7 linked regions of the Homo sapiens genome follow. The protein of the gene in region 1 interacts with the protein of each later gene in a biochemical or structural test. Each region holds a gene or a part of one and is shown on either strand. Other genes may lie near its edges.

What was found.
Region 2: the proteins of FRMPD4 (region 1) and KCNA6 interact in a test that uses a peptide from one of them, tested with the Homo sapiens proteins (one large-scale study listed by IntAct).
Region 3: the proteins of FRMPD4 (region 1) and SH2D3C interact in a test that uses a peptide from one of them, tested with the Homo sapiens proteins (one large-scale study listed by IntAct).
Region 4: the proteins of FRMPD4 (region 1) and PTH2R interact in a test that uses a peptide from one of them, tested with the Homo sapiens proteins (one large-scale study listed by IntAct).
Region 5: the proteins of FRMPD4 (region 1) and SBF1 interact in a test that uses a peptide from one of them, tested with the Homo sapiens proteins (one large-scale study listed by IntAct).
Region 6: the proteins of FRMPD4 (region 1) and SLCO2B1 interact in a test that uses a peptide from one of them, tested with the Homo sapiens proteins (one large-scale study listed by IntAct).
Region 7: the proteins of FRMPD4 (region 1) and FAM110B interact in a test that uses a peptide from one of them, tested with the Homo sapiens proteins (one large-scale study listed by IntAct).

Annotation. Positions count from the first base shown.
Region 1 is NC_000023.11:12,722,473-12,725,023, reverse strand, and holds the end of FRMPD4 (FERM and PDZ domain-containing protein 4), read right to left. Parts: 3' UTR 501-2,551; downstream 1-500. UniProt on the Homo sapiens protein: Positive regulator of dendritic spine morphogenesis and density. Required for the maintenance of excitatory synaptic transmission. Binds phosphatidylinositol 4,5-bisphosphate.
Region 2 is NC_000012.12:4,807,585-4,812,722, reverse strand, and holds the start of KCNA6 (potassium voltage-gated channel subfamily A member 6), read right to left. Parts: upstream 3,390-5,138; 5' UTR 2,682-3,389; coding exon 1,092-2,681; 3' UTR 1-1,091. UniProt on the Homo sapiens protein: Voltage-gated potassium channel that mediates transmembrane potassium transport in excitable membranes. Forms tetrameric potassium-selective channels through which potassium ions pass in accordance with their electrochemical gradient.
Region 3 is NC_000009.12:127,775,867-127,779,904, forward strand, and holds the start of SH2D3C (SH2 domain-containing protein 3C), read right to left. Parts: upstream 2,801-4,038; 5' UTR 2,762-2,800; coding exon 2,725-2,761; intron 2,066-2,724; exon of another isoform or gene 675-2,065; intron 1-674. UniProt on the Homo sapiens protein: Acts as an adapter protein that mediates cell signaling pathways involved in cellular functions such as cell adhesion and migration, tissue organization, and the regulation of the immune response.
Region 4 is NC_000002.12:208,404,921-208,410,096, reverse strand, and holds the start of PTH2R (parathyroid hormone 2 receptor isoform 1 precursor), read right to left. Parts: upstream 3,306-5,176; 5' UTR 3,054-3,305; coding exon 2,979-3,053; intron 1-2,978. UniProt on the Homo sapiens protein: This is a specific receptor for parathyroid hormone. The activity of this receptor is mediated by G proteins which activate adenylyl cyclase. PTH2R may be responsible for PTH effects in a number of physiological systems.
Region 5 is NC_000022.11:50,458,036-50,461,569, reverse strand, and holds part of SBF1 (myotubularin-related protein 5), read left to right. Parts: coding exon 1-47; intron 48-283; coding exon 284-411; intron 412-857; coding exon 858-1,036; intron 1,037-1,161; coding exon 1,162-1,298; intron 1,299-1,410; coding exon 1,411-1,618; intron 1,619-1,903; coding exon 1,904-2,100; intron 2,101-2,177; coding exon 2,178-2,315; intron 2,316-3,534. UniProt on the Homo sapiens protein: Acts as an adapter for the phosphatase MTMR2 to regulate MTMR2 catalytic activity and subcellular location. Promotes the exchange of GDP to GTP, converting inactive GDP-bound Rab proteins into their active GTP-bound form.
Region 6 is NC_000011.10:75,171,074-75,175,550, reverse strand, and holds part of SLCO2B1 (solute carrier organic anion transporter family member 2B1), read right to left. Parts: intron 3,173-4,477; coding exon 2,982-3,172; intron 1-2,981. UniProt on the Homo sapiens protein: Mediates the Na(+)-independent transport of steroid sulfate conjugates and other specific organic anions.
Region 7 is NC_000008.11:58,143,546-58,146,903, reverse strand, and holds part of FAM110B (protein FAM110B), read right to left. Parts: intron 998-3,358; 5' UTR 674-997; coding exon 1-673. UniProt on the Homo sapiens protein: May be involved in tumor progression.

The sequences.
Region 1 (2,551 bases):
GACAATGGTTATCTTTGGAAGTTGGGTTTAAGGGGATTATTACTTTCTCCATCATTTATTTCTGTAATGTTTATTTGATAATATTAAGGAATTCCCAATTTTTAAAATGCAAAAACGTCATTGTGGTTATGTTTAAAAGTTCTCACAGGATATTCTTACTGAAATATTCATGGGCTAAGCACTATGATGTCTGGGACTTGCTTGTAAATCATACAGTGGGAGAGGAGGTGGGTAGAAATACAGAAAATAAGATTAGACATGAATCGGTAGGTAATGAGTCCACATGAATTCATACGATTGTGTCTACTTTTGTTTGAAAGATTTGTGATAAAAGATTAATAAAAATGGTAGGAGATAAACTTGGCAAAGTAGACTGGGGACTAAACATAAAGAACCGTGAGTATAAGGAAGGTTTATTCTCCAGTTCAGTGCTCTCCAGATTTCAGTGAATGCAACCCTACCTGCGACAATATTGTCACATGCATGCACCAGGCATATGCTTATTTATTCATTCATTCATTTATTTATTTAAAATTATGTACATGTACCATTGTACTATTATGCCATTATAAAACATACACAAACATAAAAAAGCTAGATAAAAATAAGCACAAGTATTGTTCTAATATGTTCTTCCTACACTCTATGGACCTGGACCCCAGTTAGGAGCCCCATGCTTAGTGAATGTGGGGGCCCCTTGAGGTTTTCTGAATAGCAAAGAGTTTATTTATAAGAAACAGAAACTTACTGGCGCAGTAATGGGAGGTTGATTAGAAGGACCCAGAGCTACTTCCCTGAGGCTTCTCAAAGAACTCCAATGGACTGGGAAGTTGTTCTAACTAGATACGTAACTTGAACAAGGATGGCCACTTCCTTGTACACTTCTTTTACATATATGCAATACACATAATGTGTTCTGCACACAGTCAGGATACAATATGCATATAAAACAAACATTCCCCCACATATTATCTTGGGCAATATATTTAACACAACGATTATGATGATAATAATAGCTAACATTAATTGAATACTTACTCTCTGCCAGGTATTGTGGTAAGAACTTTACATACACATTTTTACTCAAAACTCATGACAACCCTATGGAAATCGATCTTATAATTGATTTTCATTTTATTATGAGGAAATTGAGACTAGAAAAAGTAGCTTTCCCAACATAAAAGGGCTAGAAAATGGCAGAGTCAAAATTTTAATCAAGATGTTTCTGACCCCAAACCCCATATCCGTAAGAACTCATCCATATTGCCTCCAGAGAGAATAGTGTCCAAACCAGCAGATTGTTGTGATGATTAAATGAGATAATATAGTTAATATGCTTAGCACACTGTCTGACATAGGGCACACATCCTATTAATAGGTTAGGATTTTAGTACACAGAATGATATTTACTAAGATTTTCCACAGTAAACACCACTAATATCTCTCAATATCAAAACACCAATATTTATAATTATAATTGTAATGAAATAATGTTTTATTATTTAGTTAAACATTATTTATAATAACACACACCTAAACTCCTTTCCTTTGCTGCCATCCATAACCACGTGCGGCTTTTGTTGTTGAGTCCCTGTGGAATGGCTGACTAGAGAGAGATTGCAATTGTGGACTGTGTTATGACTCCTTCTCAGCAGGCTACAAAAGTAGAAATATTTGCACCTGGTGTACTCCCATCATGTTCTTAAGGAGCCACCTGTCTAAGTAGGAGTGCATGTAACTTGAGCACTGAATGACCCAGGAAATACATATATACATATCGATTTTATTTTATGACTGCAGGGTACTTTTAGAGATGTGACAGTCCTGGAAAGTTCTTTGCATTCCATTGGTTTCACTTGAACTGGTCAAATATACCACTTCCATTTCTTTCTTTTTTTTTTCAGATTTCATATTTTTATCAGCCAATCCAGATTAAGTATTTATTTAATAAATACTTAACTATTTACTCATGGCTCCCATGATTACAGTAGCCATCTCTCCCTGATTTTCTGGAACATCCAAGATTTGAGATTTTGTCCCAGTACTACGCTATAATTCCAAATTTGACTGGCAGCCTTAGCCTCTGTAGAGGCGGTGATGCATGAAGCCCTATGCTGAGAGCTGTGATCTGAGATGAGACTCACAGGTGCTGGTGTGTGGTCTGGTCTACATTACTGAATCTGTACTTAATTTTGATGATCATTAAATGTTCCTTTTTTTAAGTTTGCAAATACTTTACTAAATGTCCTATCACTCTAAAGGGAATTTTAAGTTTCGTAGTTGAGTTGGGATGAGGGGAAGATAATGTCTTTGGTTTGCAGATTTTTGACATTTAGTCAAAGCAGATCTTTCCATCAAATAATTAATTTTGGTATTATTAATTCCATACATTTTATGTAATGAGATATTCTATAACTCTAGGTGTTACCTAGGAAACTGCCCATCATCCCCTCTGTTCTTCTCCCCGGGAAGTTTTTTAAATGCTAGAACCACTGTGAAGAGCATTTGTGCTGACACAGTAGAATCCATCCCCACCAATTTGTAGCCCCAG
Region 2 (5,138 bases), on another chromosome or scaffold:
GCCATCCAATGTGTGCTTTTACCTGTCTAGGGCTTTAAGCTGGAGTTTGCCTGAGGAAGCCTTCAACAGCAATCCTAAATCAAACTCCCAGGAAGCAAGGTAGAGGGCCAGAGAAAATGTGGGGAAAATGAAGGAGAAAAGGCTGCCATCTGCAACACGATTCCTCTGCCCCTTTGAGAAAACAGTATCTGTTTAAGTGGCACCTTGCTTCAGACTGTGGTCAAGCCAGTTGCTTGACTCTGCTCAGACATTCCTCCTGGCTCTGTGGTTCCCTTTCTCCAGTTCTTCTGCTCAGGAAGGCACTTGCACAAAGAGTATTTGGCTCTGAGAAGGAACCTTCCTGGAAGCTGGAGAGTCAGGGGATCAGAGTGGGGAGAACTAAATGTAGACCGAACACCAGTGCCTCTTGTGCTGGGGCACACTTTGAAAAATCCATTGGCCTCTTTGGTCCTGGACTAACCCCGTGTCCTCCAAGTGGTAAAGTTTGATTGTATTCTCTAATTCCATCCAAGTTTAGAAACGAATAACCTATTTTGAGGCTATGCAAATAAAGACTCTACCAAGGGTCATCTGCAGGAGGACCAGTGATTGTTACAGGGCACTGGAATAACAGCAAGTTGAGTACTGCTTCTGTCCTCCAGCTTCTTCCAGTTACCAAGTAGCCTGAAGCTAGGAAACGCACATGACCCAAAGCAAAGAACACTAAGGAGGGAGCGAAGACTCAGATAGGGCTGGTTTCCATCCTGTTGACATTGCTGTTCCTTGAGATATTGTAAGTCCCAGACATGAAAAATCAGTCTTGAGGGAAGGTCAGACATAAATGTATATCTCATTCATATGACAGAAGCTGGGCATGATTGGGTGGCACCGCTGGAATTTCAAAAATGTCACTTAGATGGATTAACCTTGAATGCTGCAGGGATTAAGCAACAAGGTTGATAGTCCAGGTATTTGGTCCTGGATGCCAGGTAGTGGGTGTAGGGGAGAGAGTCAAGAAGTCAACTGAAGCTAGAGTGAGTAGTGGAAATGAGAAGGAAGCCTAAGAGACTGTTAGCTCAGTGCTCCCCTCCTGCAGGCCCTGCCTGCATGGGTCAGACCTCCGTGAGCATTCTTTTCTCTGCATAGGCCCGATGTGGTGTAGGAAGGTAGCTGGGTCTCCGTTCCCGGTTAGCCTCGGGGAAGTCAGGCTTGCCAAGTCCGTTGTCAGTTGCCCTCAGGTCCGGCGCAGGCTGCCCACAAGTGACGTGGGTATACTGGCCTTGCTCCTCCTGCTCCGTCTCCCGGTGGTAGAAGTAGTTGAAGTTGGAGACGATGACGGGCACAGGCAGGGCAATGGTGAGGACCCCAGCGATGGCACACAGCGAGCCCACGATCTTTCCCCCCACAGTCATGGGGTACATGTCCCCGTAACCTACCGTGGTCATTGTAACCACTGCCCACCAGAAGGCATCCGGGATGCTGGGAAAAAGCGAATCGTCATCGTCAGCCTCTGCGAAGTAGACGGCACTGGAGAAGAGGATGACCCCGATGAAGAGGAAGAAGATGAGCAGCCCCAGCTCCCTCATGGAGGCCTGCAAGGTCTTGCCCAGGATCTGCAGCCCCTTGGAGTGGCGGGAGAGCTTGAAGATGCGGAACACCCGGACCAGGCGGATGACTCGGAGGATGGCCAGGGACATGGCCTGCTGCCCATTCTGGCCGCCTCCTCCACTGGCTGGTTGCTGCTCCTGCTGCTGCACCAGCTCAGTGCCCAGGGTGATGAAGTAGGGGAAGATAGCCACCAAGTCAATGATGTTCATGATGTTCCGGAAGAAGGCCGGCTTGCTAGGGCAGGCGGAGAAGCGCACCAGGAGCTCAAAAGTGAACCAGACAATGCACAGCGTCTCCACCAGAAAGAAGGGGTCTGTAAAGAAGGAGCCCCCAAGAGTACTGAGTGAGGAGGAGCCCCCGGTCCCCATTTCCCCAGGGGTGATGCCATGATGAAATGTGTAGGAATCGTCTTCATCCTCCTCTTCCTCCTGACTCCCCCTGGAAACTGGGGAGACTCGACTCACACCACCATTGTTTCCACCTCGACCATCTACACGGAACTGGGGTAAGGTCTCCAGGCAAAAGATGACTATGGAGATGAGAATGACCAACACGGAGACGATGGCGATGCCCCTGGCCGGCCCAGAGCTCTCTGGGTACTCAAAGAGCAGCCACACCTGGCGCTGGAAGGGCTGGGAGGGCAGCGGCTTCTCGTCCTCGCCACCTTCGGGCAGGCAGCCCTCGTCCTCCCGGAAGGCCGCCAGGGCCTCGTCCCCCAGCTGGTAGAAGCGGATCTCCTCCAGGAAAATGTCCAGGGGCACGTTGACCGGCCTCCGCAGGCGGCCCCCAGACTGGTAGTAGTAGAGGATGGCGTCGAAGCTGGGCCGGTTGCGGTCGAAGAAGTACTCGTTCCTCAGGGGGTCGAAGAAGCGGACTCGCCGGCCAGGGTCTCCGAGCAGCGTGTCCGGAAACAGCGACAGGGTGCGCAATTGTGTCTCAAAGCGCAGCCCGGAGATATTGATCACCAGCCGCTCGCTACTACAGCAGCCCCCGCCCCCGCCGGCCTCCGGGAAGTCTCCCGCATCCTGTTGCTCTCCCTCCGGCCCACGGACCTCCCCCGGCGCCGCCAGCGTAAGGGATTTCTCCGATCTCATGCCCCCTCGGAGGTGCGCTCCCCGCCACTAGGACGGCGCCCACGACACAATCTCTGGAGCGCGGCACCCGCTCCCCAGCTCCCGGCTGCGCCCTCTTTAGGGTGGGGCCCGCGCTCCTCCCGGTTCGCGGTCTGACCTGGCCGTTGGGTCCGTGAGCCCTAAAGCCCTGGTCCCTGCAAGGCTGGGTCTGGGGAGGTGACCTGGGCGCTGGGGATTTGGTTCTGCGCTTCCCGTTACCCGCGCCCGGGTGCTAGAGCTTACTGGGATGCCCGGAACCGCACACAGGCGCGTGTGAAATTGGCTGCCCGAAAAGACGCGTGGCTTCGCCCCCAGCGGTGCCTGAGACCCGGCTCCCGGACGCAGAGGTCCGCCCTCCAGCCGGGCTAGCTCTTCCCAGTTCCCACTGCGCTCCTCCAGCCGCTCCGGACCCCCGGCTGCCGCTGGTACCGAAGCGCCAGATGCGCCTCCCTCCGGCTCGGCAAAGACTCCTGGCGGGGCTCGGCCTCCGCCCTGCGTCCACCGCGGGGCTGGGTCCGGCCAAGGTCGCGGTTCCGGCCGCCACAGCCGCCACCTCCTCCCTAGGAGCCGCGCCGCAGGCCTCGCAGAGGGCCCGGGGCTGCCCCGGCGCCCGAGCGCGGGGACCCACCTCCCCACGGCTCAAGGCTTCGCTGCCGCCGCCGCAGCTGCAGCGGCTCGGCTCTCCGCTCTGCCCTTCCTTCCCAACACACACTCTCCAAGTGACGTGGCAGGCCCCGCCTGCTGCCCCCTCCCACCCCACTCCCACATCACACCCCTCGCCCAGCCAGGGGCTGCCGCGAGCCAGGGCGCCATGGAAATAGACGCACACTTGCCTCACCAGTAAGCTTTCCCGCGCTCTCCTGGCACGCCTCTCGCTTTCACACGTTCACATTCGCGCCCCCCTCCACAAGCGCCGGCACCCTAATACCACACCCCCTCCACCCCCGCAGTCGGCTCTTCTCATTTCAATTTACCGAGTTGACCTGCGCAGTGTATTTCATCAATAAGAAGACACACCCCGCCCCACCACACAATACGGAGCACTGTGCATCCACTCATACAGAAATCTAAAGAAAACATTAAATCATACATTCTTCTGTCTTCAGGAAGACCCGTTTGCCAACCTCTCCAATATCTACAGGAAAAAAAAAATAGAGAAAGTATTTTTGAGATGCCTTGAGAGCTTCCGATTTAAATTCCAATATAATTCTCCGTCTACCTTTGCAAGCCTGGGAGGGCGGGGCTGCAACTCTCCCAGAATTGCAAAGGGATGGTAGAGAAAGGGTGGCAAGTCAATCAATGCCTTTCCCATCAGAAGATTTCCAGGGGAGTCCTGAGAGCCTGAGGCAACAACCCCAGTGAGGAAGGACCCAGAAGATGGAAGCACCTCAGAGATACCTCAGCCCAGGGCACAGTGCACCCTGGGGATCCTTTGCTCCCAACCACCCCGAAGGATGCATCTGGAATTTCTGCTTATTGGGTGACCAAAAAAAGGGAGAAGAGGGTGAGTGGAAAAGGGGTATGTAAGAGTGTTGATTGAAAAAATAATAGCTACATTTACTGGGCATTGAATATGTGCCAGCCACATTCTAGGTGCTTTCCCAGAAAGATGTCCTCTCCTTGTAGGCCATGTTACAACAAAGACCCCTTTGGCAGTACTGGAGTAGGGCAAAGTTTGTTGTTAGGGACCAGCTGACTCTTCCCTAACTCTCCAGCAAGAAGGTGATAAGAATGGTTTTCCATCCATTTCTGTCTTTCTTCACGAGACCAGACAAGTTGGGGTCTGGTAGAGGAAGACTCAACTGATCTTTTCAGACTGACACTTCCAGGTAGGGTTGACATTTGCTTCTCTGTGCCTCAGTTTCCTCTTTTCTGGCTGGCTGTAGCCAAAATGAATTGGCTAACAACTACAAAGTGTTTTTGTGTAGCTTCTGGTGCATATTAGATCATTAGTATGCATTCATTGAGGTTAATGATGAGAATGACACATAAAGGTGCTCTCAAACCACAGGATGCATCTGAGAGTTCTTTGTATTGCACGGAGTATTTTAAAACCACAGTGGTTCTCAGCAGCATTCACTCTCAGAGAGTTGGAGGAAGGAGAGAACCAAGGCTCCTGGATGTGTCGGGAAGGGATCAGGTGTTGAGTGGGTAAGAAATGTGCTAGTATTAGAACTCACTGCATGCTCATTCTCCAGTCTTGCTCCTCACCAGTTGAGCCAGGCAACAGCCTCTGCTCCCTTTCTGTGCTTGCACAGCTGATTTCTGGCACCAACGCCCTGTGGGCTTTTTTGATCCCCCAGGATAGAAATCAAAAGAGATCACAGCATACAGTAGCAAAGAGAAAGATTTTATGAAAGCTTATGGACATAAGGGACCAAACACCAAGAAAGGAAGTGGGTTGCTCTCCAAAGTCAAGGTGTGGGTTCCCTTTGTGGA
Region 3 (4,038 bases), on another chromosome or scaffold:
CACCCAGGCTGGAGTGCAGTGGTGCAATCCTGGCTCACTGCAACCTCCACCTTCTGGGTTCAAGCGATTCTCCTGCCTCAGCCTCCCGAGTAACTGGGATTACAGGCACGTGCCACCACGCCCAACTGGTTTTTGTATTTTTAGTACAGACAGGGTTTCACCATGTTGGCCAGGCTAGTCTCAAACTCCTGACCTCAAGGGATCCACCCACCTCGGCCTCCCAAAGTGTTGGGATTACAGGGGTAAGACACCGTGCCTGGCCACTAATAATAATAATTTAAAAATTTCTGAAAATGATTCTGCATCTGCCAAATGTGCTGCATGAATTCTCAGCATAACTCAGTGACACAGTTTAATCCCCATTTTCCAGATGCGAAAATTGAGATTCAGAGCAGTGTAATGAACCGAGCTCACACCGCTGGTAGGTGGAGCAGGTGTGCGTGTTTTGTGCTCATGTAGGGGGTTGGGGAGTGTTCCAGCCAGCCTCTGTGCACCTGGGGTGGGGGTGGAATGAGGAGGGGGTTGTTGTGAGCCTGAGGGTCGCACTGTCTGTGGTTCTCTCCTTCCTGTCAGCTGAGCCCAGCTCCAGACTCAAGAGGAACGGCTGGGGTGATACCATCTCCTGGTTTCTGCGGGGGTGTATGTGAGTTCCCTCCCCCTGCCCCCAGCTGTGGGACTGTCCCTTCTCACAGCCACCACCAACTGACTTCCCCACAGCCTCCAGATGAGCAAAAAGGTAAAACTCCGGCATTTTCCACATCCTCAGCATCCTCCACCTCCTCAGCTGTTCGCACCCGTGCTGGGATGCAGGTAGGATGCCCCCAGTTGACAAGGGAGGAAACTGAGGCCCAGCAATGGGGAGGGACTCCCCCAGGGTCACACAGCAAGGCCATGGCTGAGCCTGGACACAGGCCCAGGGCTCAGCACAGCTGGGTCAGTGCTCAGGGGTTTGCTTCCCAGCCCTGCCGGCCCTATTTGGTTATTGCCTTGGTCTCCTGAGAAACGTGTCGGCAAATGTGGCCGCTCTGCTGCATGCGGTGGGGGTGGAAATTGAATCAGTGGCCAGAGGGAGGACCCCCAACTGCCTTCTTTCTCAGCACCACTGGTTTTGCCTCCTGGGCACCAGACGTTTGGAGGAGATAGTGGGGGCTGGGAGGGAAACTGAGGCCCAGAGTCCAGGGTCTGGGATTGGGCCCTGCTCAATAGCCCGTGTGACCTCAAGCAAGTCTCTGGGCCTCAGCGTTGCCATCTGGGAAATGCAGTCATAATCGCCTCAGCATTGCCATCTGGGAAATGCAGTCACAATCACTGCCCTTTACGCCACATGTCCCCCACCCTGGTGGGGTCAGATCAAAGGAATCAGGAGACAGAAAAAGTTTGCTGGGACTGGGAAGGACAGACACAGGAAAACAGAGCAGTGGGCAAGTGTGGCCCCTCACCGTGGAGCCTGATTCTAGTACCTCTGTGCTCTTTCCCCACCCAAGTATTGGGTCCCAGCCTCACTGCTGTTGGGAATGTGAGACAGCATCCCATGACACCCCCATCCCCCTGCCGCCCCAGTAACTCCCCACCTGGGATCCCATGATGCCCCCATCCCCCTGCCGCCCCAGTAACTCCCCACCTGGGATCCCATGATGCCCCCATCCCCCTGCTGCCCCAGTAACTCCCCACCTGGGATCCCATGACGCCCCCATCCCTCTGCTGCCCCAGTAACTCCCCACCTGAGATCCCATGTGAGCCCAGGCCTGCGGGCAGGGGATGGAGTGTGCGAATGCCTCCCCTGCCCGGCCGCAAGGTCAGAGACAGCCAGAGACACAGTGGACTGCAGAGATCGAGAGACGCGGTGGGGAGACAAAGAGACGGATAAAGAGAAGCACAGAGATGGAGAACGAAGTCAGTCAGAGAGACAGAGATGCTGGGCCAGAGTGACAGCCAGAAAGCCACGGGATGCCCAGAAGCAGAGACGTCTGCAGAGAGACAGTGATGGACAAAGAGAAACAGAAACAAGGCGGGAAACAGGAGGATCGCTTGAGCCCAGGAGATCGAGACCAGCCTGGGCAACAAAGTGAGAACCCACCCCGGTCTCTAAAAAAAAAAAAAAATCAGTTTTATTTTACTTTATTTATTTACTTATTTTTTGAGATGCAGTCTCGCTGTGTCGCCCAGACTGGAGTGCAGTGGTGCAATCTCTGCTCACTGCTATCTCCACCTCCTGGGTTCAAGCGTTTCTTCTGCCTCAGCCTCCTGAGTAGCTGGGATTACAGGTGCGTGTCACCATACCCAGCTAATTTTTTGTATTTTTAGTAGAGAGGGGTTTCACCATGTTGGCCAGGCTGGTCTCGAACTCCTGACCTCAGGTGATCCACCAGCCTCGGCCTCCCAAAGTGCTGGGATTACAGGCGTGAGCCACCACTGCACCTGGCCAAAAAAAAAAAAAAAGATTTAATTGTGCCTGGAGTCCTAGCTACTTGCCTAGCTTCTTAGGAGGCTGAGGTGGGAGGATCACTTGAGCCTGGGAAGTCAAGGCTGCAGTGAGCCGAGATTGTGCCACTGCACTCCAGCCTGGGTGACAGAGACGCTGGTGTCCAAAAGCAAAAAACAAAAAAAGAAAAAGAGTGAGAGAGAGAAAAACAGAAATGAGACAGTGATGAAGAAACAGATGCAGAGAGAGGCCCAGAGGAGAGCCAGGGATGGAGGACAGTGCAGACGGCACCCCACACTCACTGAACTTTTTGCTGGTCTTCTTGGTCCCCTCTGTCATCTTGGCAAATTGTGTGAAGCCCTTGGCCAGCTTGCGAGTGGCCACTCAAGGCTCGGGACATCAAAGTTGAGGTGCCTCTCCCACCTCCCCTTCCCCTTTCTCTTACTCGCTTCCTCTGTGTATTTTTAAACCAGTGAAACTCCCACAGCTCCACCCTCCCCACCCTCTCCGCAGGGGGCGGGGGCTGGGGCCTCTCCTAGCCCCAGCCCCTGTGGGCCGCCTCCTTGGCCTCAGCAGCAGGGGCAGGGGCCAGACCGCAAGCCCCTGGGACCTGGAAGGTCTAAGGAGCAGGCCGCAGGCTCTGGGAACGGAGCCCAGTGGGCTGGGGGCCGCTGGGGACCTGCCAACAGCTGTCAGGGGGCCTGGCCATCAGGCTGGGAAGGTGAGGGGAGTCAGGCCTGTGTGCAGGGCAGTTGCTTCTCAGCCTCTGTACCCAGGAGAGGGACTGGCAGCTGCAGATGGGAGAGTGCTGTGGTCAGGCCTGTGGACTCTGGGCCCCCCAGACCCAAGTTCCACTCTTGGCTGGCCATTTCGCCACGGTGTGACGTCCTCCCTGTGAACCGGGGGTACTCGCAGTGCCCACTTCATCGGGTTCAGCCATGGGTGTAGGGCCTGGCACAGAATCGGTGCCTACCAAAGCACAGTCACCACTTTCCAAGCTATCAGGGAGATGTCATCATGTGTTCCACTGTACTCACTGGACAGAGATGATGAAACCGAGGCACAGAGAGGCAGAGGGATTTCCCCAGGTAACACAGCTGGTTGCTGGCCCAGACTGGGCCACAACTCTCCCTTCTAGGCCCCTTAACCCACGGGCTGGTGCCTTTCCACCCTACAAACTTGCCATGTGTGCATGCTCAGGTGGGCAGACCGAGATGAGGAAATGCAACCTCCCCTCCACGGGTCATCCTGGACATCTGCAAAGGGTGTCAGCAGCTGCTGGGGCTGGGGGCGGGGCCCAAGACCCAGGGCTGCCAATCCCAGCTACTTCCACCTCCCAAGCCTCAGTCACCTGATTTCTAGAATGGGGAGAAGTGGGAGGTATGCAGCCAACCTGCCAACCAGTGGGGGTTCAACATTTTATCCTGGACCCCAGGCTGGCAACCCAGGCTGTGAGAGGAGTCCACTGCCATCTGATAGGGCACTTCCTGCATCCTCCATTAACAGTAACAGCCCCAGGGTGGGCGCGGTGGCTCACACCTGTAATCCCAGCATCTTGGGAGGCCGAGGTGGGTGGATCACCTGAGGTCAGGGGTTTGAGCACAGCCTGGCCAACA
Region 4 (5,176 bases), on another chromosome or scaffold:
TCTAAGACCTGGCCATTTTTTCGCAGCATGGGACTCCTCTGATGGGCACCTTTCCCCCAAGGTTCTCCTTTGAGTTGGAAAAAATTTTGTCAGATTTGCTTGCCGGTCTGAGGTTACCCCTGTCCAATCCTTCTCCCTCTCCCTTTCAACTTTCACAAGCATTACCTCCTCCCCTAATAAACCTCTAGCACCCCAATTCCATCCTACAGTCTGTTACCAGGAGGATCCACTAACACAGTAAAGAAAATACTGAACATGTTTATATAGTGGTCCTCATTACCATGTGATAATCTGACTATAGAAAATGCATTGCTGGGCTCTGTAATGATGTATGAATGCACGGGTTTTGAACTGTGCTTTGAGACAAAAGTATATCTTTACCAACCAGAAACCACAGAGACCCTTAAAACAATTGATGAGCACTGGTCTATATCATCTATTTTATGGTGTGATCCAGTGTTTACTGAATACTAAATATTTACTCTACACAAGCTCATTCTGCCTGGGTGAGTTCCCTTTGGTTTTCTATCAATATGTTATAATTTTTTTGAAATATCTGTGTTAGCTAGCAATATATTCATCATTAACTGGGTATGCTAAAAAAATTAATAAAGCCAGCCTCATTTTTCATAAATACCTTGTCTCTCATACTTAAGCTAATAATATCAGCAATTGATATTTGAAGTAAATAATACCCAGAATGTATTTAGTCTCTATTATACTCCAGGTTAACTAATGGAATTTCAGAGTAGAGAATGACTGTAACCTAAAAGTAATAAACCAAGACTTATAGAATTAAAAGAATCTTAGCCCAATATGACTCTTTTGAAGATGAAGAAACTGAAGGTCATAAAATGTATCAGTTTGTCAATGTAAATCACTTGAATTTAACCTCCAGACTTTAAAATGTCAAAAATTCGGCAAATGTAATATAATACCACAAACTGTCATTTTATGCAATTCATAATCTATAGATATAAATGGAAATCCGTGTAAAGCAATGATTTTCAACCAGGAGTGATTTTGCCTTCCAAACTATGTACAGCAACATCTAGAGACATTTTTGGTTGTCTCAGTTAGGGGGAGGGGGGCTACTGGCATCTAGTGGATAGAGGAGACAGGGTGGCGCTAAATACTCTGCAATATACAGGACAACACACCCACCCCCAACAAAACAAAGAATTATTATATATGTCCCAAAATGTCAACAATGCCAAGGTTGGGAAATCCTGGTTTAAAGTTATAGAAGTATTCAATGTCCTGATTGTTTTATTGAAAGCAAAAGAAAATATTCTGCCCACAATCCCATGGTGATTTATTTATTATTTATTTCTCTCTCTCTCTCTCTCTCTCTCTTTCTCTCTCTCTCTCTCTTTCCTTTCTTCTCTTTCTTTTCTTTCTTTCCTTCCTTCAAGACAGGGTCTCACTTTGTTGCCAGGCTGGAGTGCAGTGGCATGATCATAGCTCAGAGCAGCCCCGAACTCCTGGGCTCAAGAGATCCTCCCGTCTCCCAAAGTTCTGGGATTACAGGCGTGAGCCACCACACCAAGCCTTTTTTTTTTCTTATTGTACTAAATAATACCTCCCCATTTCCTTACAAAAAGTAATCTAGAACACTAAATAAAATAAACGGTTAGAGTTCAGTTGCCTCTTGTATATAAGATGCCATTTTTAAGCATATTATCCAAATATCTTATGAGATAAAAATGTAGGAAGTATAGTAGAGATTACCAGAGTTCTATAACGATCATGGAAATTTATCACCAAATTTTTTTCCATGCATTCATATTCCTTCTGGTAACTTGATGAATTTTTTCAGGTTTAAGTGTATCTTACTTTCAGCTATCCATTGCTAATATTATTAGTCAATGTATGACACACAAATTGTTTAGTTTATTAACAAAATTTATTTATTAACAAAATAAATCTACATGAAACATCTTGGTCATGTTAAGTAAAGCCCACTTTTAGCGTGGCACCTAGCCTAGAAATCCCCTTTAAGTTTTAATGTCTCTGGTTATGACTTTAACAGATAGGTTTTTTAAACTGCACTTTTAGAATAATTGAAATTTAAACTAGTCATCTGAAAGCCGAGAACATAGTATTAAGTTTAGACAGTATCAACACATAAATCACTGCTTTGAATTCTCACGGTGAAATAATTTTTTATTGGGCCTTCATTTGACGGTCTAGGTGCACCCCCTACCGAACCGGAGAGAAATACCTTGATTCGGTTTAAATTCACAGGGCTCTTGAACTGCATAACATCCACCACTACACGCATCTCTCTAGCTCATCTGAAAAGCTGACTGTAAACCCTACATTTGATTTGACTCAAAAAAAAAAGTGCGTATGAATTGTGCCTTGCACATTAAAGAGGCTTCATTGTGAAAGATCGCCCAGAAAATCTCTAAATGATATTAGCAGTACAAAAGTGACAGCCACCGCTTAACATTAACAAATGAGCTGTATTTTGGTATTTTTATTCTGTCTCCTAACTTGAATGTATGTGATTCTGTATCACAGACAGCCAATTATTCTTTCAGATAGTGGTCACAATCGATCCTGTAAATTTAAATTCTCAAAAGCGATGGTAAATTACCAGCAGACAAAAGTCATTTCGATTAATTAAATGGGGACCACGGAGTTTAAGAGTAAGAAAAGTTCCTTCACCTTCCCAGCCTCACACTCTTGATCCACGACTCCGCTGTTCGGAAATATCCCCTTACTTTGCGGATGCCAGGATGCTGGTCTAAACAGTGCCGGCCCCAGGACATCACTCCACTAAAGCAGATCTTTGAAGCTCCCTCCACTAATTGCCTGCCAGCACCTGCCGGGTACGCCTCGGTGCGTGCCGGGGCGTTTGTGGACGTGTGAACATGAATGAGCTCTCGCGCGCACCTGGCCTCCGTGTCGCTAAAGCTGAGTCCCCGCCGGAGGCTCCGCGAAAACAGGTGTCGCGGAGCACTGGCTCTTACCTGGGCTCTGGCCAGGAGGCAGCTGCCGAGCATTAGCCAACCCCAGACGTGGAGCGACGCCCCCAGCCCGGCCATGCCCGGAACGGCTGTAGGAAGAAGCAGGGACCCTCCTCCAGAGCCCGGGAGAAGCTTCCAAGTTGCCAACTTGGCTGGCCCAGAGCAAACTTGTGGCCAGTAACGACGCGCAGCTGGGGTGGTCGGGCCCGGGCCACCGGCCGAGGGTGCTTGGGGTCTTGTCGCCGGAGCCACGCGCTTCTCAGAACCCGCGTGCTGCTGCGCCGCGGCGCGAGGTTGGTCTTGTCTTCCGGAGAGACTGGCCCGAGTCCTGGACTTGACTCGCAGCCCCGCGCCGCCTGCGGCGGGAAGGGGGCGGCTCCCGCCCCAGGCGGATCCGGGTGCGCCCCGCGCGGCTGCGCTCGCGCTCCTCCTCGAAGTCACTGGGTCCCGCAGCCCAGGGGGCGGAGGGCAAAGGATCTCATGTCGCTGCTGCCGCCACCCCCGATTCGCAATGTTTCTGCTTCCCTCCACTCTGTCCCGGGTTCCAGGGCCCTGTCTCTAGGGGCGCCCTGGGTCTTCCAGGAGTGATCCAGAAGTTTCTTCCTGTCCTGCGTGCGCTGACCATCGGCCCCGAGGACAGCGATAAGATGGCTAAAGGCTCCCGAGGCCAGGTAGGCCCTGCGTCTGGGCTGTTCGCTGGACAGTCCTAAAGCTCTCTAAAATGCTCTGATTCATTTTCTCCTAACCATTATAATAATACTCGGTGTGTGTTAAGTAGAAATAATGTATATATTTCTTGTGGGTCAAAAGTTCTTTGTGTGGTATTGTGCTTTGAATCCTGGCATTAAAAAAAGACAACTAATATTCTTTTTTTTTAGTTTATTTTTAAGTTTGACTATTTTAGACATTCATTGGCCAATTGTATTACAACCTTTTAAAATCTCTTGTTCTTGCCTCTTGAAGGAAGAAAGCCTTTGAATTCTGGCTCTGCCATGTGCTAGCTGCATAACCCTGAGCAAATTACATACTGGCCTCTCTTTGTCTTAATCTCCTCAATTGTAAGATGGGAGAAATGCGAGAACCTCCTTTAATCAGCTCTGGATGCTATAACAAAATACCATAAACTGGGTGGCTTATAAACATCAGAGATTTATTTCTCACAGTCTGGAGGCTGGGAAGTCCAAGATCAAAGTGCTGGCAGATTCAGTGTCTGATAAAAGCCCGCTTCCTCATTGACCACTGCTGTCTTCTCATTGCAACCTCACATGGCAGAAGGGATGAGGGATTTTTCTGAGGTCTCTTTTATAAGGGCACTGATCTCAGAGCCCTCATGACCAAATCACCTCTCAAAGTCCATGCCTAATAAGCCATCACCTTAAGGACTAGAACTTCAACATATGTATTTTGGGGGAACATAAACATTCAGCCCACTGCTGTCCCTCAAAATTTTGTTGGAAAAGTTAAGTGAGTAAACAAACATAAAGTCCAAGGAAATGCTCAATAAGTATTAGCTAGTATCGTTAGCATTGTTTGGTGATGATGAATATTATTATTATTATTGTGATCATAGTCTGTGAATGGGCAAAGGGCTGTGGTAAGTTTGAGTATTCCCTATTTATGTAGAAAAGCACTGTCTATGTTTACAATATAAAATATTTTTCTGACATAAATACCAAAATGTTTTTCAACTTTGTTTTTGGCCTAATTTATAATATCTTGATCAGTGCGGAGGGTTTTTTAAATTTATGTATCTAAATCTAGCAGTCTTTTCTTTTATAATTTCTTCCTTAGCTTTTATGCGAGAAAGGAATTGCATACTAAAAATTAGAAAATCTTTTCATCAGATCTTTTTTCTAGTTCTTTTCTACCGTTTCATAATTTTACTGTTTCAAACATTAAATAAATAATTTAATGTTTTAAAGTATCAATTTTTTAGGTAATGTAACAATTTCTCCAAGTACCTAACCAGTTAATGCAACATCACTTATTAAAGAATCCATCTTTTTAATGGGAAAGATATTTTGAAGGGAGGTGGAGGACAAAAGTTTGCTAATGCCTCTGAAATCACAACTTTAGCTCCATGTAAGGCTGCTCTGATAGAAGAGGCTTAGAAATCAAAGTAGGGTTTGCAATCAATTAAATAGAGCATCTCTCCAGTTTATCCAGGGTGGAATACCATTCATCAAACTCAGATGTGAAAC
Region 5 (3,534 bases), on another chromosome or scaffold:
CACCACGTACCGGGTCATCTTCACGGGGATGCCCACGGACCCCCTGGGTGAGCCTGCAGACTCTCTGGCCCTGTCGCCCCCTCTCCCCCAGGTCTTTGGGATGGATGGGCTTTCCCTGCCTCCCTCTCCCTTTTCTCGGGGGTTCTGGGTGCCCGTGGGAAACGGGCCTTTGTCTGCTCCTTCCCCACCCACTTGGGATTCCCCATAACTGTGGTACCCTGAGATTCTGGGACCCCCCCCCCCTTACCTTCCTTGCTTCTGACTCTGCCTGGCCTGTCCTAAGTTGGGGAGCAGGTGGTGGTCCGCTCCTTCCCGGTGGCTGCGCTGACCAAGGAGAAGCGCATCAGCGTCCAGACCCCTGTGGACCAGCTCCTGCAGGACGGGCTCCAGCTGCGCTCCTGCACATTCCAGGTGGGGCGCGGTGCGCGGGTGGGGCTCTCATCCCCCGCCCTGGTCTTTCTCCTGCAAACCGGTCTTTCTTGTATGAACCATTTTTAGGCCAGTCTCCAGCAGTGGCCCTGTTGTTACGCTTGCATGTCTGGGGCCCTCACTGTGGCTCTTGAGTTGATGTCCACTGTTTGATGTGCGGTCTTTGGGTCCTTGTCCTTTCCTTGGGGCGCCGGCCCTCAAGTCCGTGTCTTGGGTGTGCCTTGCAAACCCAGGCCTCAGCTCACAGCCACTGAGATTTCGAGTTTACACAAGCGCTTGCCTTCGTGTGACACAGATACAGGCCTTTGCCTGGGGCCTGCTTCTCTCTCTGTCATGGCTGCGAGGGGAAGGGGAGCCTGGCAGTGTCAGAGTTGGGGGAGGGGCTGGGGGGCCACCCACACCCCTAAGGGCTGCTTTTACTGACACAGCTGCTGAAAATGGCCTTTGACGAGGAGGTGGGGTCTGACAGCGCCGAGCTCTTCCGTAAGCAGCTGCATAAGCTGCGGTACCCGCCGGACATCAGGGCCACCTTTGCGTTCACCTTGGGCTCTGCCCACACACCTGGCCGGCCACCGCGAGTCACCAAGGACAAGGGTCCTTCCCTCAGGTATGGATCTGGGTCCCAGGCAGGGCAGCTGGGCCTCAGCCGTGTTCCCGCTCCAACCCTCCTAGGCCCCTGTGCTCATCTTTGTCCCTCCTCCTCTCACCTTTGCTGACTCTCGTGGGCCTCAGAACCCTGTCCCGGAACCTGGTCAAGAACGCCAAGAAGACCATCGGGCGGCAGCATGTCACTCGCAAGAAGTACAACCCCCCCAGCTGGGAGCACCGGGGCCAGCCGCCCCCTGAGGACCAGGAGGACGAGATCTCAGGTGGAGGGGTGGGGGTGGAGTCCTGGGTGGTCTCTGGATGCTGACATTGGCCAGGGAGGATCAGGGCAGGCGGAGTGGCCCCGTGATGACCACGTGTGCCCGGCCTGTGCAGTGTCGGAGGAGCTGGAGCCCAGCACGCTGACCCCGTCCTCAGCCCTGAAGCCCTCCGACCGCATGACCATGAGCAGCCTGGTGGAAAGGGCTTGCTGTCGCGACTACCAGCGCCTCGGTCTGGGCACCCTGAGCAGCAGCCTGAGCCGGGCCAAGTCTGAGCCCTTCCGCATTTCTCCGGTCAACCGCATGTATGCCATCTGCCGCAGGTGAGGGCCGGCCAGGGCTGGCCCGGGTGGTGGACACGTGACTGGGTGTCTTCCCTGCCCGCTGTGGGCCTGGGCCACGGCTTCTGGTCATGTAAGGAATGTGGAGGGGGAGACTCCGGGCAGAGGGACGGGCCACAGGGCTGGGGGGTGGCTGGGGGGCCCCGTGGCTGAGCTGGAAGCGCCTCCTGCTGGGAGCCATGGGCTGGCTCCTCTTGCCCTGCTTGGGGCGTGAGCCTGGAGGCGGGTGGGGTCGCCAGCCACCTTCACGCCTCTGCCTCCTCTCAGCTACCCAGGGCTGCTGATCGTGCCCCAGAGTGTCCAGGACAACGCCCTGCAGCGCGTGTCCCGCTGCTACCGCCAGAACCGCTTCCCCGTGGTCTGCTGGCGCAGCGGGCGGTCCAAGGCGGTGCTGCTGCGCTCTGGAGGCCTGCATGGCAAAGGTGTCGTCGGCCTCTTCAAGGCCCAGAACGCACCTTCTCCAGGTACCTCCTGCGTCCTGCCCTGTGCCTGCCCTGCCCTATCTCACCCTCCCCTCCCTCAGCTCCGTGTCCTCCCCCAGGCCAGTCCCAGGCGGACTCGAGTAGCCTGGAGCAGGAGAAGTACCTGCAGGCTGTGGTCAGCTCCATGCCCCGCTACGCCGACGCGTCGGGACGCAACACGCTTAGCGGCTTCTCCTCAGCCCACATGGGCAGTCACGGTGAGGGTGCTTGTGGGCAGACGGTGGGGCAGGGGCACTTTGGGGGGCCGTGGTGGCATTTATGGTTTGGCAGGCAGGCCAGGGAGGAGCAGAAACGGCGCTGGTCATGGATGTTTGGGTGTGGGATGAGGAGCATGCCCTCCGGGTGCCGTGGGGCAGGGGCGGGAAGCCTGTCCAGACCAAGTGTGTGCCCAGACCAGGTGTGTGCCCTGACCTCCTGCCCGCCCTGACGTCCTGCCCGCTCTCCACCTCTGCGTCTGCTGCAGCTTCCTGTAGGGTCCTCCGGGTGCTGCCTCTACGCGGCTCTGTCTTACCATTTCCCACAGCCTGGAAACATCCCAGATGCTCCTCTGTCCTGTTCCCTCCCAGTGTCACTGTTTTTCCTCATCCCCCACACTCCACCCTCCCTGCATCCCCCAATCCAGACTGTCTTTGGAGCCTCTGGCCTGGCTCTGCCTGCAGCTTGGCCTCTGTCCTCGTGTGTCCTGGTTCCTTGGGCCTTGCCCGAGCTGGCCTTGCTGTCTCTGTCCCCACCGCCACGCACACTTCACAGGCGCCCTGCACACACTGAGCTAGACTGGCCCCAGGACGGGGTGGCAGATAGGCCCCACACTCACTCCTGTGTCCGGACCACCTGTTCTCTAGTTCAGAAGTGGTTTTGTTTTTCCAGATACCACATTATATACTTACATTTTACAATCGCCCTGTCTTGCTGCCTTCCCACCCCTGCCAGAAACCCTGAGTGGCATTTGCAGGTGGGGCCGCCCCTGCACCCCCCATGCCTGTGCTTCCCACAGAGTCCCTTTTGCGTCTCCGACCATCCCCAGTGCCAGTGGCTGCTGCCTCCCCGTGTCCCCCTCAGTGCCCAGCAATGCTCAGGGGCTCAAGCTTCACTCAGCTGTAGTCGTGGCTTCTAGTCCCAGCCCTGACCTTTTTTTTTTTTTTTTTTTGAGTCGGAGTCTTTCTCTGTCACCCACGCTGGAGTGCGGTGGTGCGATCTCGGCTCACTGCAAGCTCCACCTCCCAGGTTCACGCCATTCTCCTGCCTCAGCCTCCCGAGTAGCTGGGACTACAGGTGCCCGCCACCGCGCCCGGCTGATTTTTTTGTATTGTATTTTTAGTAGAGACAGGGTTTTACCGTGTTAGCCAGGATGATCTCGATCTCCTGACCTGGTGATCCGCCCGCCTCGGCCTCCCAAAGTGCTGGGATTACAGGCGT
Region 6 (4,477 bases), on another chromosome or scaffold:
ATACCTTTAAAAACAGCATTTACTTCTAAGAGGGTATTTAGGGGACCCCTGAGCCCTGAGCCTGGGAGGGGACGCCTGGTGAGATTTCAGAGTTAGCTCTGCCCTTCACTTTCTCCTCTTGCCCATTCTCTCGCCCTGCAGAAGATACACATCCCATGTCTGGGGGCCTGGACTTTCTGGCAGCCAATTCAGCCTCATTGGGCCTTTGCTCCTGGTTTATTCAACTCCTCATTGGTGGCCCTCCTGGGCCAGGCCAACCACGTTACTGCAAGCAGACCCGGCCAAGGCAGCCTCAGGGAGGTGGAGGAACAATTCCTCCCACATCAATATTTATTGCCTGAGAGCTGCTGGAAGCAGATCATCATGTTCTCAGCCCTTGTTTCTTTTTAAAGAACCTCTCACCCCCTTCCCTCCCCACTCCCCATCCCCAGTGTGCTGACAGAATGAATCCAGACAGCCAGACAGGTTCACAGCTGGGGAGCCAGGGTTTCAAAGCATCATAGAGACACAGCTCTTAAAATCTGAGTATCTGAATCATAGCAGCTCCGACTCAAGGACTCGTGCATTCTCAGAATCTGAGGCGCACAGGATATTGCTCCAGGAACCTAACCTCAGCATCTTACACAGCAGCACAGAATGGGGAAGTGGCTTGCTGCTCAAGGTCACATGACTGGCATGTGACAGAGCCCAGCGTGGTCTCCCACCCCTAAACTTTGCTTCTGTCACCTATCCCACCCGTGGCTCAACTGGCATTCTTCTCTGTTCAAATTTAGGACTCAATTTGGAGATCATCTGTAACCAGCAATATAGGCTCTCTCTCTTTCCTTTATAAACATCACTCCACCTTTAAGTTCTAGGAATTTCATCTTCTCGAAACTTTGGCCTGAACTAGGCAGAATCAGAAAGGCCCATCTGTAGTTCCAAACTGTCTTCTTCCCCTGAAACTGCTCACTCCCTGGCAGCTGCTTCCCCCTGCCTCTGAGACAGCTGCACCCAATCCCAGCATCAGCCCAACTCATCACTGTCTTGGGGACATCCCATAGCAGGGCAGCTATGTGCAGTCCCCAACCTGGGTAGCTCCCAGATGCACCTCTATCCCCTCACTGCCAATGCACGGCTTCCACCTGGCCTGGACCACCATCAGAGCTGTCTCATTTCTCTCCCCGCCCCCACCCTCTCCAAACATATTCAAATGCATCAACCTGCCACAGAAATGCTCTTGCAGCAAAAACATTCAACAGGATTTTTATAAATTGTCCCTTTGAAATTAGAATTACTTAGCAACAAGTAAGTTACTTAATTTATGATTGTCTATGATTTCTCAACAGCCACCTCCCATACTTGAGAAGGAGGAAATCTAATGCACAAATTTTCAGAATGTAATGAAATGTGTATAAGTATTAAAAAAATTAATGAACTTGACATTACTGGCTTGTAATTAAACTTTTAGGCCTGGCACGGTGGCTCACTCCTGTAATCCCAGCACTTTGGGAGGCTGAGGCGGGCAGATCACCTGAGGTTAGGGGTTCGAGACCAGCCTGGCCAACATGGTGAAACGCCATCTCTACTAAAAATACAAAATTAGCCAGGCATGGTGGCACACACCTGTAATCCCAGCTATTTGGGAGGCTGAGGCGGAAGAATCGCTTGAACCTGGGAGTTGGAGGTTGTGGTGAGCCGAGATCTAGCCTGGGCAATAGGGTAAGACTCTGTCTCAAAAAATAAAAATAAATAAATAAACTTTAAAAATTGTTTCTATTTTGTCATTTTCTTTTTAATTTGAAGCCAATTTGTTGTTTTTCAGGCCTCGTGTTTTTGTGGGTATCTGAAAAACTTGGAAGTCCCTGGCCCAGAATGGCTATCCTGCCTGGTGGCTCACATGATCCTGTCCTCTCCTACCAGTTTTGTGACCCTGGGCAAATCCCTCCACTGGGCTGGGCCTCTGTGTCCGCTTCTGAGGAGAGACCCACCTGCCCCAAGAGCAGAGGAGGAGGATTCTAGATACCCCTGGAGCATCACACCGGTCGTGACTTCTCCGTGAGTCTGTGTCCTCCCTAGACTGTGCCCGCTGGAAGGGTGGAGGCCACGGACTGATCTTCAGATCCAGCCTGGGGCCTGCACTCCATGCATGTTTCTTCCCTTCACTGTCCCCGAAAGGGCCAGGTTTATTTCTACAGCCAAATCCTTCATGCAGGGTGCTTCTGTGCCTAGAATCTCTGTTGCTCTCTCCTTTCTGTGCTTCCACAAATCCTTCAAAGTCCAGCTGAAATCCCTCCTCTTCAGGGAAGTCTTCCCAGATGATCCTACCCACCCTCCCAATTCTTAACATTCCTATGGCACATTCAGAATTTACAAAAACTTTAAGTGATGAGCACAGAGGCCATATTGTAGTGGTTAGTATGGGGGCATGGGCTCAGAAAGGTGCGGGTTCTCATCCCAGTGCTGCCTTGCTTGCTGGCTTTGTGATCTTGGGTAAGTCACTTTCCAACACTGGCTCTGGGTCTCCTCAGCTGTGGAGACAGCAGGTGATATTCACTGTGCAAGGCTGTCAGAAAGATGTGATGGAGCCCAGGCAGAAAGTATAGTGCCCAGTGGGGATGCAGTGTAATTTTTTTTTTTTTTGAGACGGAGTCTTGCTTTGTTGCCCAGGCTGGAGTGCAGTGGTGCAATCTCGGCTCACTGCAACCTCCACCTCCCAGGTTCAAGCGATTCTTCTGCCTCAGCCTCCTGAGTAGCTGGGACTACAGGTGCCCACCACCATGCCCGGCTAATTTTTTCTATTTTTAGTAGAGACGGGGTTTCACCGTGTTAGCCAGGATGGTCTCGATCTCCTGACCTCGTGATCCAACCGCCTTGGCCTCCCAAAGTGCTGGAACTACAGATGTGAGCCACCACGCCCAGCCGAAGTGTAATGTTACAAAGGAGAACAAGTGGGTGGTGCTGGAGCCTGGACCCAGTCAGGTGACATGGAGGGAGCTTACCTTCCTGGCAGGTGAGTCTGTGACTGCTAAGACCTTTCGCCGAAACTGAAGCTCACGTTTTTCCTTGGGCATTTCCTTGGGGAAGAAGAAGTAGGGGATGGCAGCCAGGGCCACTGCACCGGCAGCGATGAGGAAACCCAGCCACCAGGCACCCACCCATCGGGGGTCCTTTATGGTCAGGCTGATACCACCTGGAAGAGAAGAGCATGGTGACATTAGGGTCAGGATGATAGGCTGTCACTTCTAAGCCGCCATCCTGGGACTGGCCTCTGAGACATGAGGTGGCCCAGGCTGGGAGTCAGGAGACCTGAGTTCCAGTCTGCTCTGCCAGGTGTGTCCTGTGTGACCCTGGGCAAGTCCTTGGCCCTTTCCGAGCCTTGGCTTCTTCAACTACCAAGGCAGTATAGTGCAGTGGTCAAGGCCATGGACTCTAGAGGCGGACTGCTGGGTCTGAATTCCATTACTAACTCATAACCTTGGGCAACCTACACAACCTCTTTGTGCCTCAGTTTTTGTCCTTTGTGAAATATAGATATTAGTAGCTTCCAAATCATAGGACTGTTGTGAAAATTAACGAAATAGATGTGAAGCACTTAGAAGAGTGTGTGCCATATAGGTACCTGCTCCTCCTCCTCCTCCTCTTCCTCCTTCTCATTACTATTGTGATTATTATTCTTAAATGAATGTTTAGGATTACTGTTGTGTTTCTCAGACCTTCATGATGATTAATATCCCCAGGGATGTTTGTCAAAAAATACCTGGCCTTACTGAAGACCCACTTAGAATGACCACAGAGTGGGGTGGGAAGGTGACCAAGGAACCCGTACCTTTAACAAGTTCCCCAGATGATTTTGATCCCCCACTAGGTTTAATTGGGACTAGATTATCCCAGGTGTACCTCCTGGCTGGAACACACAAAGCTCCCGTCATACTTCTTAATCACAAGGCTGAGTTGTGTACATTTTCCTTCAATTTCCACAGCATCCAAAAATGCTTCATAAAAATACAAATGAGCTGGGTGCAGTGGCTCAAGCCTGTAATCCCAGCACTTTGGGAAACTGAGGTGGAAGACTCATTAGAGGCCAGGAGTTCGAGACCACCCTGAGCAACATAGTGAGGCCCTGTCTCTACAAATAAATTAAAAAGTTACCCAGGTGTGATGGTGCACACCTGCAGTCTCAGCTACTCAAGAGCCTGAGGTGGGAAGATTGCTTGAGCCCAGGCATCCAAGGCTGCAGTAAGCTAGGATTGTGCCACTGCATGAGGGGCAGAGTGAGACCCTGTCTCAAAACAAAAACAAGAAAAACCAAATGCTCCTTGATGTACCAACCCCACACACAGAGCTGGTTCCCCTGGTGCTTGATCCTAAGCTCCTCCCAGGCAGGGACCAGAGGACTCAGTTGGCACTTAGCAAACGCACCTGTAAAGCCGGGGATGGGTTTGGCTTTTGCGCTGATTAGACTTGATTCTCTCCTTACTTGTTATCTCCCCTGCCT
Region 7 (3,358 bases), on another chromosome or scaffold:
GCAGGGGAGGGGCAGAGCTACTGCAGGGGATGGCCTTGAGGGGCTTCACGCTGGTCACCTTGCGGATGTCCGAAGAGCTGTGGGACACGTGGAGGAAGGACTCGGCTGACTGCTCCAGCAGTCTCCTGCCCACGTGGGAGCCGCCCTCCTGCGGGCTCCTGCGGCCCTGCGTGGGGTAGACCTTCAGGGACTCCGCGAAGGAGTGACGGTGCAGGTCAGTGGCTTCCGACCGGTGGGGCGGCCAGTTGCGGGAGCTGTGCTTGTGCCCCGAGCCCGAGCTAGAGCCCTCGGAGCTATTGATGATGTTCTTCAGGATCTCCAGCTTCAGGTTCTCCCTCTGCACGCCGCTCTCGGTCTTGGCGTGGTTGCCGAACACTTTGAGCGTGGGGCTGCCCAGTGCGCGCTTGGCAGCCGGGCACACCGGGGGCTTGGCCAGCACGGCGGGCTTCACGGGCTCCTGCTTGGCGTTGATCACCTCCTGGCTCTTGACGTACTTGGCCTTGTCGGCCTCCAGCCTCTCCACGGCGCTGAGCCTCTTGGGGTTGGGCTCGGCCTGCCTGCGGAAGTAGTCTGGCCCCTTGTTCAGGATGCGCAGGGGCACAGCAGAGGTGAAGGTGCCCGCGGGGCTGACCGGCTTCACCATGCTACCTGTCTGTAGGGTCTCCGTGGGCATGGTGGGCGGTCTTTCCCCGGCAGCCGTGTTGGATGCTCTTCTGGGCGCCTCCGCAAGGCCTGAATAGACACATGTACATGAAGCGCCAAGGGCGGCGGGTGCAGCCTGGGAGCGAGTGTCAGCAGCAGCGGCCGCAGCAGCGCCTCATCTCACAGCTCATTAACCGCCACGGTGGCTTTCATACACTTTTCTCCCCTTCCAGGCGGCCCTTGCACAAAAAGGCCACAAGCCACAAGTTCCTTTAATCTGCTTCGCTGCCTCCTTTCTTCTCCCTGAAGGAGGTGGGAGTCTCCTCCAGGTCTTTGTGTTCAACTGCAGGCAGAGCTGAAACACAAAACAACCAACCGCGGGTTAGGAGGGGCGGGTGACATCACGGCTCTAGCAACAGAGAAACCCCGCAGCGCCCCCGCCCCGCCCCTGCGCGGCCGAGGGTCGTGGGCCGCAGCTCAGTAGCTGTTTTCCCGACCGCGCGAGGGGGACGACCCGGGCCTTGCGCCCCCGCCTGCGCCGACGCGCGGCAGCACAACGCTGTGCCGGGAAGAAAGAAAGGGCTGAGGTTTCCCACGCGCGAACTCTTCCAGCTGCCTCCGGATTGGTGAGATCCGCCTTCTGAACACGCCCGGTTGGCATTTCTCAGCTCAAAACCCAGCAAATACTTGATGAACGTAGGAATGAGGGCTTAGCCAAGCCCTGTTCCCCAGCTCATTACATGCCACTGAGTTCCTACGAATCCCTTCCATGCCCCCCGGTTGCAACGTCGTGAATTATCTCTTTTGCAATGAAGCAAAACTTCTCCCTCTGTACTACCAATTTCTCAGGAATACTTGCAACAGTCACTTTTTTAACTTCATAAACTGAAAAGGGCAAGAAATGGGATTGGCAGCAAAGCTACAAAGTTTAAAAAAAAAAAAAAAACCTCAACACGTTTCAGTTATCTTACTTTGGCCAACCAATATATTTAAAAACTTTCTCCTGAAAACCACAAATGTGTATGGAGTTCCACCCATTAAACACAAGCTTATTTTTTTTTAACATTAGAAGATCCATAGAAATACTTCCAAATTTACCATATGAGTAGATAATTTGATTGTCCCTAAGTTATCCATAATTTTTCATACTTAATGAGCAGAAATCAAAAGTTTCTTCATGGTATGTATATTCCCAAATCCTCTACAGTACTAGGAACAAAGTCTTAAAAGTGTCCAATCATACCTAAAAATATGTTACTTTAATACTATAGAAAACTTGGGTAATAGGTAAGCTTTCATGGGACAACTTGACTACCAAGCCAACAACAACAATAAAACCCACTTGTCAATAGTTGAACGTTTATCAATATTCCTACTGTAATTCTGTAAGGAGTCTTTTTATTTCATATGCCATATAATGTAACTCTTACCCTGCAGCCCCTGGAAACAATTCCTCCCATAGCCTGTTACTGCAGGCAGAGAACATTTACAAATGCATCAGCACTCCAAAGCAAGGGGCTAATGACCTTAACAGCATCTTTGGTTATAATTAGGAATGCTAAGAGAGTAACCTATTCAACTAACATGCCAAATAACTAATTTACAAAATAAATAAAGTCATATTACAACCACATCTGCTGGTATTTCTCCTTATAATTTCCTGAAATTCTTAAATCTGTAAATGCAACCCATCACCATGTTTTGTTAGAGATAATTTTAGTAATCTGTGAAGGGATTTGTTCTAATAAAAATATTTTCCTGTGCAAGATTTGAGAAACCCCAAGGCAATACCTACATTAACAATTTCCTTTAATTGTGCGGTTCTATTTTGATACCTCAATTTAGTATAAAAAACAAAAAACACCTCCTCCCATTAAGATGAAATGAGATTGTTTCTTTGAACACATTTTGAATGAAATGCCAGAAGGGAGCCCCGATTCCTCTGGAGGCACAATCTCATCCTCTTTACAGAAGAGACTCAGAGCCAGAACAGGCAGCAGAGCCTGGGCCAGGATGCAACTCCGAGGTCATCATACCCGGGACCCTTGGGAGAGGGCTGACCCCAGGACAATACCAGAAAGTTTGGGGGCACAGTGAGGGGCAGGACCAAGATCTGCAACCTTCAGCTTTGTGCCTGAGGACTAGAGTGGGAATACCACCTAGTGGGCAGTGGGAGACAAAGTTCATCTCCCTTCTCCTGGGGCACGAGTTAGTTGGACAAGATTCCTTCAATCCCTTCGTACTGTAAAATCGTGAGGTTCTGAGGATCTAAGAATGAAGGAATTACTTCCAGTTTCAAAATGGCGTGTTGGAATATTGGTGAATGACTGAATTTTTCTATGGTCCCGCACTGACTGTTCTTAGGCCAACGCTCTCTGAAGATGAGTTGTAGTTCTCATGTAACATTCCTCCTCATGCAGGCCTGTGCTTCTCTTCTAACCATCTTCTCTTCTAGTTCTATCATATTAGGACCAGAAGCCTAAAACACCTACACCACTGGCGTGGCCTTCCATGCACACCTGCGTGTCTGTTAAGGTAGGCTTTGGTACTGTTGGCAACACTGAATAAAAAGCCTGACTGTCGATTCACAAGAGTGAGGAATACCAGTCTATCTTCTAAGAAGCATTTTCCAGAAAGCTGCTTGTCTTCCTTGCACACTGCTTTCTCTATTCATGTGGCAGACACCCTCAAGACGGCTCCTCCAGCACTCACAATT